4 linked regions of the Homo sapiens genome follow. The protein of the gene in region 1 interacts with the protein of each later gene in a biochemical or structural test. Each region holds a gene or a part of one and is shown on either strand. Other genes may lie near its edges.

Region 1 (4,636 bases):
CAGCTCACACTTGACGTCAAAGGGCTTGTCCCTGGCAGAAAGGTCGTCGATCCTCTGTGAGTCCTCCCTATCCGTGGGGACTTTGCTGGTGATGGTGTCTTGCTCGGTCTCATAGCCGGTGTCCAGGGCTGGCTTGGGGTGCTCCCCATTCTGCTGGGAGAAGCTCCCTGGCTCTACTAACGTCTCCTTCAGGCTCTGCTCACGGTCACAGAAATCTGACTTGGGCTTCTTCTTCCCAATTAGTAGGGCCGAGCGGAATTTCAAGCACTGTCTGGGCAGGTATCCCTTATAGCAGTTGTAGAAAAAGAGGCAGAGGAAGAGAACAAAGAAGAAGAGGAAGAGGGACATGAGGAGGCGGTTGTCGCTGGACTTAAGATACATGGTTTTCTCCGAGTGGAGCTGGGGGACCGTGTTGATGACGATCTTTGGTTCGCAGGATGTGCCGGTGGGCGCAGGCTTGGGAGGAAGGGTGATGGCCCCGGAGGAGGTGGCCTGCACGGCTGGGGTTGGGGGAGAAGACCCTTGGGTGGATGCCACCAACACTTTGGTGGCAATCCTACTACCTTCTGTCTGAACAACTGACAAGGTGGGGGCCACTACGGGCTTTGGAACCACCTTCACTTCCAGGACGTGCTTGGCGACCACTTGGAAGACCGTTTTGTTCTTAACCCTCTCCTCTGACAGGCACTGGTACACCCCACTGTCTCCTTCTGACAAGTTGAAGATGAGCAAGTTTTTTCTGCCCATAAGACCGTACTTGGGGCTCTCGGCCTTCAACACGCCATTCTGGAACTTCCAAAAGACCCGGGCCAGGTTGGATTTTTGGGAGCATTTCAGTTCCGCTGTGCCACCGTGCTTGAAAAAATGCTGCCGGTAACTTCCTTTACTTTTATCTGGAACATCAAAATAAACGTGCACAGCGTCAACAATCCCCATTTGCTATTTAACAACTTCTTTAAAATACCCACAAGATGACGCAAGAGTTTCACCCACTGTAGCAACATGGAATCTTCCAGAACAACTAAGGAGATAAAGACATGCGTGACCAAAAAGCAAAGATGAGCCCTGGATGACAGCCCATGGGGACAAAGAAATTGGAGGCAGCTCTGAGCAGCAGAAATCCCATTTCTCACCCGTGTCCCAGAAGAAAACGCGTCAGGCTGGGGAAGCTGAGCAGAGGCCAGTTCTGTGCCTAGTGTCAGCTCTTTGAATCAGACACGAGACGCTTCTGCTAATGGCTGCAAGGAAGACTGGCCTTTCAGTGCATCTCAGCACTCTCCTCCTGCCTAAACTTTTCTTTTTTTTCTTTTTTTTGAAACAGGGTCTGGCTCTGTTGCCCAGGCTGGAGTGCAGTGGTGCAATCACAGCTCACTGCAGCTTCAACCCCCCCAGCTCAAGGGATCTTCCCACCTCAGTCTCCAGAGTAGCTGGGACTACAGGTGACCACCTCCAGGCCTGGCTAATTTTTGTATTTTTTGTAGAGACAGGGTCTCACCACGTTGCCCAGGGTAGTCTCGAACTCCTGAGCTCAAGTGATCCTCTTGCCTCAGACTCCCAAAATGCTGGGATTACAGGCATGAGCCACTGTGCCCGGCCAGCTTTTGTTTTCTTTTTAGAGTCTGGGTCTCACTTTGTCACCCCAGGCTGGAGTGCAGTGGCATGATAAGCTCACTGAGCCTTGAACCCCTGGGCACAAGCAATCCTCCTGCCTCAGCCTCCCTAGTAGCTGGGACTACAGGCGTGTACCACCATGCCCAGCTGCCTAAACCTTTCTTAGTCTGATGACAGCTGTCTTGTCAGGGTCAGGAAGACACAGAACTGAGGGTCAAGTCTGCCTTTAGCACCCTGGAAGGTGGCTGCTGGGGAAGGGGCATCTGGCCTGATGCCACCCCTCCCTCTGGGTGTGGTGCTATTTCAGACATCCACAGGCGGGTGAATCCCAGGTGGGAGCCCCAGGGGAAACACCACCCCAGCCCTTACACTGCCTGAGGATTAATCACTCATGGGCTCCTTTCTCCCCATTTATAACAGGCTTAGGTTTTGCTTAATGAGCCCCAAGCTAAGCAGAAAGAAAACAGGATGGTTTTGGAAGGAGACTGCTTCCCAGTAAGCAGATACACTCTAAGTGGCTTCAAGTACTCTTTCGGCAAGAAAAAAAGACAGAGAAGACCACGAGTCTGCTACAGAACACTTGACCTCTGTTCCGAGTGGAGAAAGAAAAACAAAACACACACAAATGCCACAGAACTGAAGCACCGTGAAATGGCTACAAGACCTCGCCACTCCCAAAGGAAATGGGACGTCGAGGAGTCACTCACCCGGGCACACAGAAGCATCGCCGCTCATCTCCTGAATCAAACCCCTGCAAAACAACCGGCACGTGTTATTCACCCACACACATGGGGGACATCCCCAGGCAGCGCATCCCGCCCCATACCTGCTGGGGCTCTCGGTCTGGTGCAGAGCCACGCAGGTCGCTGTGGGCGGGCTCCAGGCGCAGTAGGGGTCCCGCGCCAGCACACAGTCCTCGCAGGTGCCGTGCTTCCCACAGAAGGCCAGCGGGGCCTGGACCACGCCCGAGTTAGAGCCAGCATAGACAAACCTGTTGCCCTGCGTGTATGAGACAGAGAAGAACTAGCATCAGGCAAGCAGGCATCCAGGAGCATGGCCTCTGCTTCTGCACCAGTGTGTGGGAAGCAGCCAGAGTGTACCTTCAGGGGACATTGCAGTAAGGAGGAGAGGTACTCAGAACCAGAGGCAAACAAGGCAGGTCTGTGACCTTCCTGCAGAATCCACGTGCTATGTCAGGGCTCACTGGGCCTTAGGTCCAAATCCCTCTCTCCCCTGTCTGGGCACCCACAGGTGCCTGCCCTCCAGCAAAGCGCTTCTCTGCACGTGTTTCTCTTAGCCAGTGGGGAGGCTGTTCAGTCCCCACCTCCAGATCTCCTCCCTGCAGCAGAGGATGCATGAGCCTGGCACTCCCGGTCATCTTCCCGGCCTCACTATAGGTGAGAAGGGGCTGCAGCCAGAGGCTGAAGCACACCACCTCGAAGCCCAACCTCGTCCCCCGAGCCAGAATGTGAGCACCTGTGGGCGGGGAGCCTCTCGTGAGGGTCTGGATCCAGCAGAGGCCTAACATAACAGGGATGCCAAACGGACGACATGCAAAGGATGAGGAGATCGTGATACAAAACATAAAAAAGGAACAATGCCTTTTGCTTTTCACTTATCTATATGTAAAAGGGAAGAGCTCACAGACGGGAAGTCAACCTCCGAGCTCCAGAGCAGCCACACCCACAGCAGAGGGCAGGTGAGACTCTCCCACCTTCTGGGACACTTGGTTCCCAGTGACACCAGCTTCAGGTCCATCCCATCAGCCCACCTGGCACCAGCAGTGCCCAGCACACAGGCATCCAGGGCTGCTGACTGCTTTTGAACGGAACTCAGCTGGAAGGAGGGTGCCCCACATGCAGTGCACCCACCTGAAGCTCGGGGGCGTGCAACAGACCTGGAGGTGGCCCGTGGAGCGCGCTCTCTAGCCTCTGCCCAGGGCATCTGCCTCAACAGCCTGGGGACACCTTTTGGTTAACAATACAAGATTCCCAAATTTACACATGACTTAGTGGTTTACAGTCAGATGAAACACGACCTTCATCCTCAGAGGATACGCTCGGAGTCAACTTCAGAGTGTGGTTGGAAGATCACAGGCCCTGATGCCAATACAGGAAGCCCCAGGCCACACATCCAGCTGTGCGGACACAGACCCACGAGAGAAAGGGAAAGCCCCCAAGGATGGAAACTGTGATAATACACAGCAGAGGGAACCTGGCCCGCCGCTGGCCTCACAGCAGCAGCAGCAGCAGAGACCTGGGCAGATGAGGCCATGTGTGAGCCACGTTTGTGGGAAGGATTGAGGATGACATCCCAGATCACAGTTCGGGCATCGCGCGGCTTGTGGAGGTGGCGGAAACATTCTCTGGCAGCAAAGCCAAGCTGGGTAACTTCCAAGGGACAGCTGGTCCTGTTGGGTCCCGCGGGGGGCACCTGCGAGGTGGCGTGAACACCATGCAGTGCAGAGCAGGGTGCCCTGGGTGGCCAAGTGGGGCCCGCCTGACTCCTCACCCCAAAGAGAGGCTTGAGGGTAGCTGTGGAGGGTGGGGTGGGCTCTGGGGGGCAAGGCCTGTCCCAAGGGGATCCAGACCACCTCCTGCACCCTGCGGGAGACTCAGCCCCAGCTTCCGCTTCTCCCGGATGGGGCTGGGCTGCAGCCCAAATGAAACTAAGCTGTAAAAACTAAACGACGCCACACAGAGACCAAGGGATGACTGTGGAAGGGAAGAGGGGACAGGGAAGGAGGAACTGGTCGTCAGGACAGCCAGCTGTAACTGCTGCAGGCAGGACCCACTGGTCGATGTGGATGTCAGTGGGTGGGAGAACAGGGCATTTCTGTAGCCTCCAAGTCTGTCCCTGCAAATAAGCATGAATGACTGTGGGGGTTTCCCACATGACTCCCCTGGGAGGTGGGGCTCACTCTCCCCCACCCCCAGTGTGGACTACATGCCCCGACACACTCGACATGGAAAAAGACGGTGGTGACTTGGACAGAATGACCAAGGTCATCACGCTGGTGCGAGTC
Region 2 (4,249 bases), on another chromosome or scaffold:
AGGCGGTTCACTGCGCCGACATAGAGTGTGCCTCGGCCAGGTGCCAGTGCCAAGTGGTTGAGAGTGGTATTAGGTGCGGAGAAGCGATGGGCCCCTGTCAAGGGCAGTGGCGGTGGGGACAGCAGCAGCAGGAGGAGGCAGAGGCCGAAGGGAGGCCAGCGAGCCATCACGGGGGCCTGTGAGAGGGCACAGGTCAGGGCAGTGGGAGCGCAAGGCAGATAGAGGACCAGAGGAAGGTGGAAGGTGGGGTGGACAGAGGCCAGGGTGCTCAGGGCCAGGGAGGGAGGGAGGCAGAGAGATGGAGAATGAGAGAGAGTGAGCGGAGACAAGGAGACAGAGGGGGCACAGAGAGAGGGGGACATAAGGAGGGACAAAGACAGTGTCCAAGAGCTGGAGCAAGAGGCAGGGAGGGGTGCATGCACGCACGCACAAGCACACAAGGACAGAATTCTTTCATCTCCTACTTTATATGCATGTAGATTGTTGAAGGGGGGCAGGTCCTGGAAAGCCGCAAGAGCGCTAACAGAGGGACTGTGAGTCACAGAGGGGGCAGGGATGGAGAGAGGGCAGGGGAGGGAGGGAGGCCGCGGGAGCTGGAAGGCTGGCGGAAGCTGTGTCACAGCGCGCCCCTGCGCCCACCACCCAGACAAGAGAGATCTAAGTCAGGTGAGAGGAGTGAGGCCACCGTGTGCCCCAAGGGACCAGACAGGGAGAGAAAACCTGCCTTGGGCAGCCAGGGCCGGCTGCAAGGAGGAACCCTCCGCAGCTGGGGGAAAGAGCCAGGCAGCCGCGGGCTGAGCAAGGAGCAAGTCAGCGAAGAGGCAGGGGTGAGCTCCATGCTGGCGCCCAGCTCCAGGGCGAGGAAGCACTGGGGCAAGGCAGCGGGGGTGCTGGGAGAAGCCAGGGGTGTCAAGAGACAACACAGGCTTCAGGGGTGCGGGGAGGCCTGCTCCTGCCCCATGGGCCCCAGCAGTTTGGGTCTCTCAGGGCCTGGCACAGGGGGCCTCAGTGTAGGAGTGTCCCAGGAGAAGAGCAGACCAGGAGAGCTGGCTGGGGGAGGGGTCAGGGAAGGGGCAGGGAGGGGTGCCAGACTGGAGATGGTTCCTGGGTGTGCCTGGTGGGACCCCGGGGTGAGCCCCCGAGGGTGAGAGGTGGGAGCAGCCCCTTCTCTGGCCCCTCCTGCCCTCCACAGAGAGATGCTGCCCTGGGTGTGTGGTCACATGCCGACCAGGAGTGGGGCCGCTGCGACTCAGGGCAGAGCAGCGCCTGGAGGAAGGCCCAGGAGCCGCTTATCTCAGGAACACAGGCAGGAAGAGCACGGACACTTCCTGCGGACCCCGGGCTATCTGGGGCAGTGTCTGCCATGAGGGAGGCTGCAGCCTGTATGTCCTGGGCCTGGCCACAGCCATCCTGCCCTACCCTGCCCCTCCCAGGAACATTTCTGGGGACACCGGGCCTGGGCACTTACCATGAAGTGGTGCAGCAGAGGGGTCTCCTGGGCGGCGTGGCACATACGCTCAGTTCAGCTGCCCCAGGGCAGTGGCGATGGGCATGAGATGGCTGCGGGGGGGCATTGTCCTGAGTGGGAGGGAGACAGTCGAGGCTCAGCCCCATTCGAGCTGGCCTGGGGAAGGAGGGGCGGCGGTGGGGGTGGCGCCCAGGGCCTAGCGACCGGGCTCCCTCACAGCTGGCAGCTTTGTCAATAGTGGCCAGGCCAAGGCAGCCCTGCCTCCACCACAACAATGTTCCCTCTGTCCAGAGGCCAGGCCAGGGCCCCACTCGCTAGTGCTGTCACCCCCACTGGGCTGTTCTGGACAGGGGGCTCCTTGCCACTTCCCACCCTCAGGGAGCCACCCCCGGGATCCGGGGACAAAGGGCCGGGGTTTCCTCCAGCCAGCCCTCCCCCTCTGGCCCTGCAACCCCTGTGTCACTAAGCATGCCCCTCCCTGGCTCCCCGGGTCCCTGTGAAGGGCACGGGGTGGACCTTGGAGCCCCTGCAAATGCCGGCTGGTAGCCTTGGGGCCTGGGTGAAGTGCCAGTCCTGGCCCTCAATGCCTGCCTTTGTCCAAAAGATCTTCCTCCACACCCCCAGCCCAGCCCTGCCCCTGGGGACTGGTGAAGTGGTGCCAGGTACAGCATGGTGGCAGCGAGCAGGACCACGGGAGGAGGCTGCTTGAGATGGGCTGAGGCAGAGGGTCCACAGGCCGGGGCTGTCCACCCCACCCTCTGAAGCACCGTCCTGCTGGCCTAGATGCCATCCATGCAGGGGATGGGGAAGGGAGGGGCACCTAGCAGCTAGACCCCCTGTCACCCTCACAGGCCACCCTGGCCAGTGGCACAGGAGCAGGTGCACTGGGGATGGGGTCTCTGCCTCCCCCACAGCACGGCAGCAGTAGGCTCCAGGGCAAGGTGGCAGTGGGCTGCTGTCACCTGGCTGGGCCAGTTGGGTGGCTGTGGGGGTGGGGAGCCAGGCGGGCAGCCTCTCTACCCTGTACCCTGCCCGAGGCTGGCGTTGGCTTTCCCATTTCGGGGAAGAAACATGGTTCCCCACCTCCTAACCCCAGGGCTACCACTTGGGGGACACCGTGCTCCCAGACACCTAGTGCCGTCGTCAGGCTGGGCCGACACCCGAGCGCTCTTGCCTGACCCCAGCCAGTTGGCCCTGAGACCCTGATGCCTTGCCCTGAGGCTGGTAGCCCCTGCACCCCAAGCCCAAGCCCAAGCCTGCCCCAGCTCTTGCCTACCTGGTGGGCCACCGGCGAGGGCCAAGTAGCAGCTGGCGGTGCCAGGAGCACGTCTCACAGAGCCCCAGCCTCCCTCCCCACAATGCAATCGTGCCCAGTCCGACTCATCCCAACAAGCCCGGCCAGGCAGCCCAGCCTCTCTCCGCCCGCCCCTTTGCCCAATGGCACAGGGCAGGATGTTGCTGCCCTCTGCTGGCCGCAGCGGGCATGATGGAGTACTGACCGTGGGCACCTGGCAGGTGAGAGACGGCAGCGCCCTCCTATTGGGTGGGCATTCCATAACCTGGCACGAAGCACCTACTGGATGCCAGGCTTGGGCTTGGCACTGGCACCATCCAGAAACAAACACAGGTTGGGAAACTGAGGCACAGGAGGTTAGGAAACTTGAATAAAGTCACACAGCTAGTATGTGGCAAGGCTGAGTCAATCACAGGGCCCCTTCACTTAACCGTCAGGCTACATGACCTTGAACCATGAACCTTGGCAGGCGTTGGGCAGGAGATGGAGCTGAGGCCTACCCCAGGCCAGGCCTGGACGTGACATGCCCACGTGGCGTTGAGGAAAAACCAGTGTTTCCCACCGACTGGAACACAAGGTTGGTCAAGGGCCGTCTCCCAGGGTGTGGCGGAGGTCAGCAAATCAGGTGGGGTCTTTGTGGCCAGGCTTGAGAACTTGAACTTGTCTCGCCATGGGCAACTGCAAGCTGGTGGCACTGGGGCAGAGAATGTGGGGAGGCCTGGTCCAGTGGTGGTCATGGGCATGGAGAGAGGCGGGCGCGTTCTAGAGGCGCTCTGGGGAGGCAGCATTCTGAAGACTGTGCGTTGGACCCAGGGCAGGAGGCGAAGGCAGGAGAATCCAGGCGACCCTGGGGCTTTTCTGCTGGGGCACTGTTCCCCCTGTGGCAGGGCCATCCACAGAGGGGCTGGCGGAAGTGGGAGGACGGTAAGACTGAGGGGCCCATGAGGGAGGAGGAAATGGTGATGGGGCTGGGGAGGCCTGGGGGTGAGAAGCTTGGCTCAGGTGGCTGGAGCCCTGGGGGCGGCCAGGGTATAGGGCCAGGTGTTGGCCCTGGAGCTCAAAGGCCCAGCAGACTCGGGGTATGGGTGCTTCCCTGAGCAGCTGTGTCATTCTTTCCAACCTGCATGGAGAGAAATGGGGCACAGAGGTGGGTAACTTGCCCAGGGCCATGACCTGACGTCGTTTCTTCAGAGTGCATTCCACAGAGATGGGATTTGAACCTGGGCATTCTGGCACGGGCCACGCTCTGGACCACTGGGCCCCAGATCCACAGCTTCTCACCTGCAGCCGCTGAGGATGTGGAGGCAGACCAGGCAGGCCCGTGGGAAGGACCACCAAAAAGCGAGTGAGCAGCCGGCGAGGGGTCTCTCCCCAACAGGAAGGCCAGGCAGCCTTGAAGGAGCCAGGGAGGGATTTAGAAGCTCCAGGAGGGGAGGCTTGGGGGAGCCAGCTGGCCTCTCTCCCTCTCCCTGTCCTTCCCCCCATGC
Region 3 (3,541 bases), on another chromosome or scaffold:
CACCCAGGCTGGACAGGGGCGAGGCTGGCGCAAGGGTGGCCGGGTGCTTGGAGGAGTCAGTTGGGCCTCAGGAATACTACGGGGTCACTCGGTACAAGGCCTCCCTGCACCCCCAGGTCTGAGACTGTGGTGGAGAGGATGCTGTCCAACTGGATGTCCATCTGCCTGTACCAGTACCTCAAGGTGGGTTCCACCCCAGCCTGGCTGGGGCTTGAGGGATGAGGCAGACTGCTGCCATCCCCTCCTGCGTTCCCCTATCTGTACGGCACCTTGAGGTGGGCCCTGCCTGGACAGGTTTGCTTCCTGCCCCTGACATGGTCAGCCCCGTCCATGCCTCTGGCCAGGGCTCCGGGGGCCCCTTCCAGGCCCCAAGTCCCCTGACCTCCCAGCCTCCCCTCCGTGTTACTCCAGGACAGTGCCGGGGAGCCCCTGTACAAGCTCTTCAAGGCCATCAAACATCAGGTGGAAAAGGGCCCGGTGGATGCGGTACAGAAGAAGGCCAAGTACACTCTCAACGACACGGGGCTGCTGGGGGATGATGTGGAGTACGCACCCCTGGTGAGCTTCTGGGGTGGGGGCCGCCATGGGCGCCTCGGATCTGGGCTAAGGAGCTTGGGCATCCCCTGGCCACAGATGGGACCCACAGGCCAGAGGCCGTCCACCTCCTCTGTGGATTCGAGTTACAGCCTGCTCTAACTCGGCCTCAGGGAGGGGCCTGGGTGCTGGTGGCTGTGGGCTCTGGAGGCTCTAAGTGTGCGGGCCCCGCATCAGCTCTTCCCGGGCGCCCCCACCTCCTGGAGGCCATACAAGGGCCTGGCACACCAGGTGTGTCCAGGGTTCTGTGCATACATGACCAGTGGGTGTGGCAGGAGCCTGTGCATGTGTGAGACGTGTGTATTCTGTGTCTGTACATGTGCTTCCATGAGCTTGCGTGACAGCCTGAGTGAGCGGTTCTGAGCCGTCCCCGTCTTTCTGTCCTGCTGAGCCGGAGCAGGCAGGGGAAGGGCAGAGTGTGGTCATCTGGGAAGCCTCGGGGGCTCGGAGCCGGGCTGGCGGGGGCCTGCTGCCCAAGGGTGCCGCTGTGGTGGGCAAAGCTGGCGGGGCAGGGAGTGGCTCCTGCATGGTGCAGGTAAGAGCAGGGCCTCCCACTGGGCTTCATCCCGGATGTCTCGGCAGACGGTGAGCGTGATCGTGCAGGACGAGGGAGTGGACGCCATCCCGGTGAAGGTCCTCAACTGTGACACCATCTCCCAGGTCAAGGAGAAGATCATTGACCAGGTGTACCGTGGGCAGCCCTGCTCCTGCTGGCCCAGGCCAGACAGCGTGGTCCTGGGTGAGTGCCGGCCCCTGCCCGTCTGCACACAGGCGCCCATGTGCCTGGCCTGTGTCCTGGGGCGGTATCCTGCCTGGCCAGCTTTCTCATATGGGAGTGGTGGGCAGTGGGAGGAACCTGGGTGGCTGGGGCCCAAGCTGGGCTGTCTCTTCCCACAGAGTGGCGTCCGGGCTCCACAGCGCAGATCCTGTCGGACCTGGACCTGACGTCACAGCGGGAGGGCCGGTGGAAGCGCGTCAACACCCTTATGCACTACAATGTGAGCGTGTAGGCCGGGGCGGGCGAGAACTGGGCACCCTGGGGGCACAGCCCACCCTCACCGCCGTGTTCCCCAGGTCCGGGATGGAGCCACCCTCATCCTGTCCAAGGTGGGGGTCTCCCAGCAGCCGGAGGACAGCCAGCAGGACCTGCCTGGGGAGCGTGAGTCCCTCCCTGTTGCCCGTTTCCTTCCAGCCCCTGGTGGTCAGCGTGGACCATGTCTGCCCTGGACACATGCACCCCTGCCCACCCTGCCACCACTGCTCCCTGTGGGACCCAGGCCCCCAGACCTGGGTAGGGGTCCCTCAGTGCCCGCTCCCCACAGGCCATGCCCTCCTGGAGGAGGAGAACCGGGTGTGGCACCTGGTGCGGCCGACCGACGAGGTGGACGAGGGCAAGTCCAAGAGAGGCAGCGTGAAAGAGAAGGAGCGGACGAAGGCCATCACCGAGATCTACCTGACGCGGCTGCTCTCAGTCAAGGTGGGCCCCCATGGGTGTGTGGGCGGCACCAGGCCGCCACGCTGAGACCCTCCCCCCCAGGAGCCGCGCCCACGGCGTCACGCTGAGACCCTCCCCCCCACAGGGCACACTGCAGCAGTTTGTGGACAACTTCTTCCAGAGCGTGCTGGCGCCTGGGCACGCGGTGCCACCTGCAGTCAAGTACTTCTTCGACTTCCTGGACGAGCAGGCAGAGAAGCACAACATCCAGGATGAAGACACCATCCACATCTGGAAGACGAACAGGTGAGGCTCCACACCCACCCCGCGGCCCAGCCCCGGCTCCGCCTCTCACTTGGGAGGCTCCACACCCACCCCGCGGCCCAGCCCCGGCTCTCATTCCCTGCTGCTCTGCCTCAGCTTACCGCTCCGGTTCTGGGTGAACATCCTCAAGAACCCCCACTTCATCTTTGACGTGCATGTCCACGAGGTGGTGGACGCCTCGCTGTCAGTCATCGCGCAGACCTTCATGGATGCCTGCACGCGCACGGAGCATAAGCTGAGCCGCGTGAGTGGGGTGGGGGCAGGTCTGGGGCAGGGAGGCCTGGGTCTGTCCCCAGGAGGCATCTTGTGAGTTGGGACCTTGTCTGGGGTGTGGATTTGAATATCTTGGGCTGGAGCCCTTGATGTAGGAGGTGACGGGTGGCGGAGGCTGGGGGCACAGGGGCCCGGCAGAGCCTGGGAGATCCCGAGAGCCCTTGCCCTCTCTCCTCCTGAGACCTCTCACCACAGCACACGAGCAGAGAAACTGAGTTTTACTACAGATCACAAAATAAGTAGTTTTCTTTTTTTTTTTTTGAGATGGAGTCTCTCTCTGTCGCCCAGGCTGGAGTGCAGTGGCGCGATCTCTGCTCACTGCAACCTCCGCCTTCTAGGTTCAAGCGATTTTCCCGCCGCTGCCTCCTGAGTAGCTGGGACTACAGGCATGTGCCACAACGCACGGCTAGTATTTTTAGTAGAGACGGGGTTTCACCATGTTGGGCAGGCTGGTCTCGAACCCCTGACCTCAGGTGATCTGCCTGCCTCAGCCTCCCAAAGTGCTAGGATTACAGGCCTGAGCCACTGCGCCCGGCCCATAGTTTTCTTGATGAAAGTGTCAGGAGTTCGGGGCAGGGGAAGCTACCCAGGGGTACTCTGAGCAGCCCCAGCCTGGCCCCCTTGGCCAGGCATCACTGGGTTTTGTCCCCAACAGGATTCTCCCAGCAACAAGCTGCTGTACGCCAAGGAGATCTCCACCTACAAGAAGATGGTGGAGGAGTAAGTCTGCCTGCCCTCCAGGCCAGGCCCCCATGCCCACCCTCGACCCCCTGCGGGGAGGTTCAGGCCTTGGTTTCCCCCACCACCCCCTTTGTGGTCCCTGCCGCCCACACTGTATGATGCTCCCACCCCTGCAGTTACTACAAGGGGATCCGGCAGATGGTGCAGGTCAGCGACCAGGACATGAACACACAC
Region 4 (3,007 bases), about 54 Mb from region 1:
CTGCCCCGGGCGGCAGCCCTGGAGCGGACAGAACCCTCGCCACCCCCTTCAGCTCCCCGGGAGCCCGATGAGGGGCTGCCCTGTCCTGGCTGCTGCCTCGGCCCCTTCAGCTTTGGCTTCCTGTCCATGTGCCCCCGCCCCACACCAGCTGTTGCCCGCTACCGCAACCTGAACTGTGAGGCGGGCAGTCTCCTCTGCCACCGAGGGCACCACGCCAAGCCACCCACACCCAGCCTGCAGCTGCCTGGGGCACGCTCTTAGCAGTGGAGCCCGTGGTCTCAGGCCTCCAACTTTGGCCTTCAGGACACCCTGTAAGAACAGAGCACACTTGCTGGACAGTGCCAGTTCCAGATGGGCTGACCGGCTCTTCTCCCCGTGTAGGGGAGCCCCAGCATGGACTCAAGGGACAGAGCACTTCCAGTCGACCCCCCGGCTCGCGTTCCCGTGGGGATCACTGAACCAGACACAGCATTGCTGACACATGAGACTAACACGTGCAATTATTTAAAAAGATTTCAATAAAACTGCCTGGCTGGCTCCGGGCCGCCCCTATCCGCTCAGCCCGTGCGCCCTCCTCCCCCACCCCATTCTACCATGGGAAGTTCTTGGGGGGAGGCCAAAGTCCCTTCTAGAGGTGGCTTCACCCTTTTCCCAGGAACAGTCCAGTTTCAGGAAGAGGGAGCAGGCAGCAGACTGGCTGGAAGTGTCAGGTGTGGGTCAGCCGGTGGCTGGGCACTGCCCAGAATGAAGGAGATGGTCTGAGGAACCCCAGGCCTCAGGTTAGGAAGGAGGGGCACAGGTTCTTGTTGGCATGAGTGTCTGGAAAAGTAAAGTATCAGTGAGCTCCATGGTTGACTTAACTGAACCCTCATCCCACTCACCCCATCTCCTCCTCAGCTCTCGACAGCCACACCACCAGCCTCCCATAAGTTGTAGGCCTTACCTGTCCCTCCCTGCCCACCCCACCCTAACAAGCAGACCAAGCAACTGGAGGCTGTGGAGGAACTTTCATCCCAGGTACAAGTTTTCTCTCGGGCCCCTGGGCCCCTGCTCTGAGTCCCTGCTCTGAGTCCCTCTGCCCCTGGACTCCCCATGCCTCAGCCCCATCCCTCACTCTTACCAACTCAGTGCAAAGGACTGTCCTAATCTGGAAACCTGAAAGCTGTCATCTCACAGATGTAGGGAAGAGAACTTCTACATGACTCTGACTCCAGTGTCCACCATGACCAAGTTTTATGTACCTTGTTACATTTTGAGCTTTGAGCATAAGTCCTAAAAAGTAGTAAGGTAGAGCTGGGATATGCTCTGGACATATCCCACCCTCCCTTCTCTCCCCTTCCCCTGTATAAAACCTAAATCCTAACTCACCCTGCCTGCCTAAGGCCACATCTGGGCATGGTTCAGGACAGATGTCTGGAGTTCAACTAAAACAGACTTTAGAACCAGCAGAGGGAAAAATAACTCGAGATCTTAAAGATGGGAAGGCCAGGCTGGGCACGGTGGCTCATGCCTGCAATCCCAGCACTTTGGGAGGCCAAGGCGGGTGGATCACAAGGTCAGGACATCGAGACCATCCTGACTAACACGGTGAAACCCCGTCTCTACTAAAAATACAAAAAATTAGCCGGGCATGGCGGTGTGCGCCTGTAGTCCCAGCTGCTGGGGAGGCTGAGGCAGGAGAATGGTGTGAACCCCTGAGGCGGAGCTTGCAGTGAGCTGAGATTGCACCACTGCACTCCAGTCTGGGCGACAGAGCGAGACTCCATCTCAAAAAAAAAAAAAAGATGGGAAGGCCAATTGAGGAACATAAGGAGGTTGCCACCCTGTTTCAGGGTCCCTAGGGTTGATCCTCAATGGTACCCCACTGCTGTCTTGATCACAGTGAAGTGGAGCTTCGATGGTACCCCCGCTGCTCCCTTGCGTACTTCACTGAGGCAGCTCTAGTGCCCCAAGTGGCCGCTACTGAGAAAGTACAACCTCAGTTTGGGTGGCCTTCTCGAAGGATGGAGAAACGCTGCTGTCATCAGCTGTGGAGCCTTAACTAAATCCTTAATGTCTCCCCCTAAAAGATAGCGTAGGTCCCAACCTAGTAGTTACTGAAACAAAAAAGTATGTGCCAGGGACTTCTAGGTGGAAATAGAATGGAGAATAAGATTGCCCTAAGAAGTTATTAATCAAATAGAGGAAACAGACAAATAGGCAATTACAGTGTTGATTTATGGGAGAGTCCTGAGGGGACCAGGTGGGAAGGAAATCTGATTACCATGTCTTTATGGAGGGGATTATGGAGTTGAAAATACCCAGAAGTCCTAACAAACTTACCTAGTGCGTTGTGTATCATCAGTCAACTTCCAATCCTTGTTAGAGCTGAGGCCAGTCCAATATGAATTCCCTGAACCACCATTTGGCAACAGTGAATTTAAGAAGTAGTAAGAGTGCTGAGGGGAGATTCAGAGAGACCAGAGATACATGGAGAGTGATGAGAAATATGGAAGAAAATGCACACCCTAGGGAGGCCTCAGCTTTGGCAAGGGGGCTGTATATATGACAGCTCTTTGGTAACTTGTCCCTGAATCCATCAAGTGCCACCCTGCAGATGCAGGCTCACTGCTAAATTTGCCTTCCAGCTGAGTAAGAATCTCTGCCAGCCTTTGGAGGGGAGTCATTCTGTGTGCTGTTCTGGCCCCAAGGAACTAATCCCTACAATCCAGCCCACCAGGTGTGGGACCTCTCTGCCTGAGAGGCCACAAGAGTCCAGGAACCTGTCAAGCAGCCCAGGGAGCTGACCAGCAAGCTGAGATGAGATACACATTAAAGTAGAGGCCGGGCGCAGTGGTTCACACCTATAATCCCAGCACTTTGGGAGACTGAAGCAGGTGGATCACCTGAGGCCAGGAGTTAGAGACCAGCCTGACCAATATGGTGAAACCCCGACTCTATTAAAAATACAAAAATTAGCTGGGCGTGGTGGCATGTGACTGTAGTCCCAGCTACTCAGGAGGCTGAG

The links. Proteins that work in one complex are often made in the same cells at the same time.
Region 2: the proteins of SEMA4D (region 1) and PLXNB3 form a complex in vitro, tested with the Homo sapiens proteins (one large-scale study listed by IntAct).
Region 3: the proteins of SEMA4D (region 1) and PLXNB2 form a complex in vitro, tested with the Homo sapiens proteins (one large-scale study listed by IntAct).
Region 4: the proteins of SEMA4D (region 1) and CD72 form a complex in vitro, tested with the Homo sapiens proteins (2 studies listed by BioGRID and IntAct).

Annotation. Positions count from the first base shown.
Region 1 is NC_000009.12:89,378,737-89,383,372, forward strand, and holds part of SEMA4D (semaphorin-4D isoform 1 precursor), read right to left. Parts: exon of another isoform or gene 2,692-4,636; intron 2,611-2,691; coding exon 2,438-2,610; intron 2,363-2,437; coding exon 2,319-2,362; intron 894-2,318; coding exon 1-893. UniProt on the Homo sapiens protein: Cell surface receptor for PLXNB1 and PLXNB2 that plays an important role in cell-cell signaling. Regulates GABAergic synapse development. Promotes the development of inhibitory synapses in a PLXNB1-dependent manner.
Region 2 is NC_000023.11:153,762,800-153,767,048, reverse strand, and holds the start of PLXNB3 (plexin-B3 isoform 1 precursor), read right to left. Parts: upstream 2,801-4,249; 5' UTR 2,745-2,800; intron 1,579-2,744; 5' UTR 1,514-1,578; coding exon 1,469-1,513; intron 891-1,468; exon of another isoform or gene 839-890; coding exon of another isoform or gene 725-838; intron 667-724; exon of another isoform or gene 578-666; intron 177-577; coding exon 1-176. UniProt on the Homo sapiens protein: Receptor for SEMA5A that plays a role in axon guidance, invasive growth and cell migration. Stimulates neurite outgrowth and mediates Ca(2+)/Mg(2+)-dependent cell aggregation.
Region 3 is NC_000022.11:50,276,647-50,280,187, reverse strand, and holds part of PLXNB2 (plexin-B2 isoform 3 precursor), read left to right. Parts: intron 1-116; coding exon 117-183; intron 184-411; coding exon 412-558; intron 559-1,176; coding exon 1,177-1,333; intron 1,334-1,491; coding exon 1,492-1,592; intron 1,593-1,668; coding exon 1,669-1,753; intron 1,754-1,916; coding exon 1,917-2,071; intron 2,072-2,174; coding exon 2,175-2,335; intron 2,336-2,449; coding exon 2,450-2,597; intron 2,598-3,281; coding exon 3,282-3,346; intron 3,347-3,483; coding exon 3,484-3,541.
Region 4 is NC_000009.12:35,609,482-35,612,488, forward strand, and holds the end of CD72 (B-cell differentiation antigen CD72), read right to left. Parts: intron 2,439-3,007; coding exon 2,323-2,438; intron 1,273-2,322; coding exon 1,143-1,272; 3' UTR 1,121-1,142; intron 820-1,120; coding exon of another isoform or gene 669-819; 3' UTR 501-668; downstream 1-500. Other genes in the region: TESK1 (dual specificity testis-specific protein kinase 1), read left to right, coding at 1-261. UniProt on the Homo sapiens protein: Co-receptor of B cell receptor (BCR) that plays both positive and negative roles on B-cell functions. Recognizes the Sm/ribonucleoprotein (RNP) self-antigen ligand, and coligation of CD72 and BCR inhibits BCR signaling.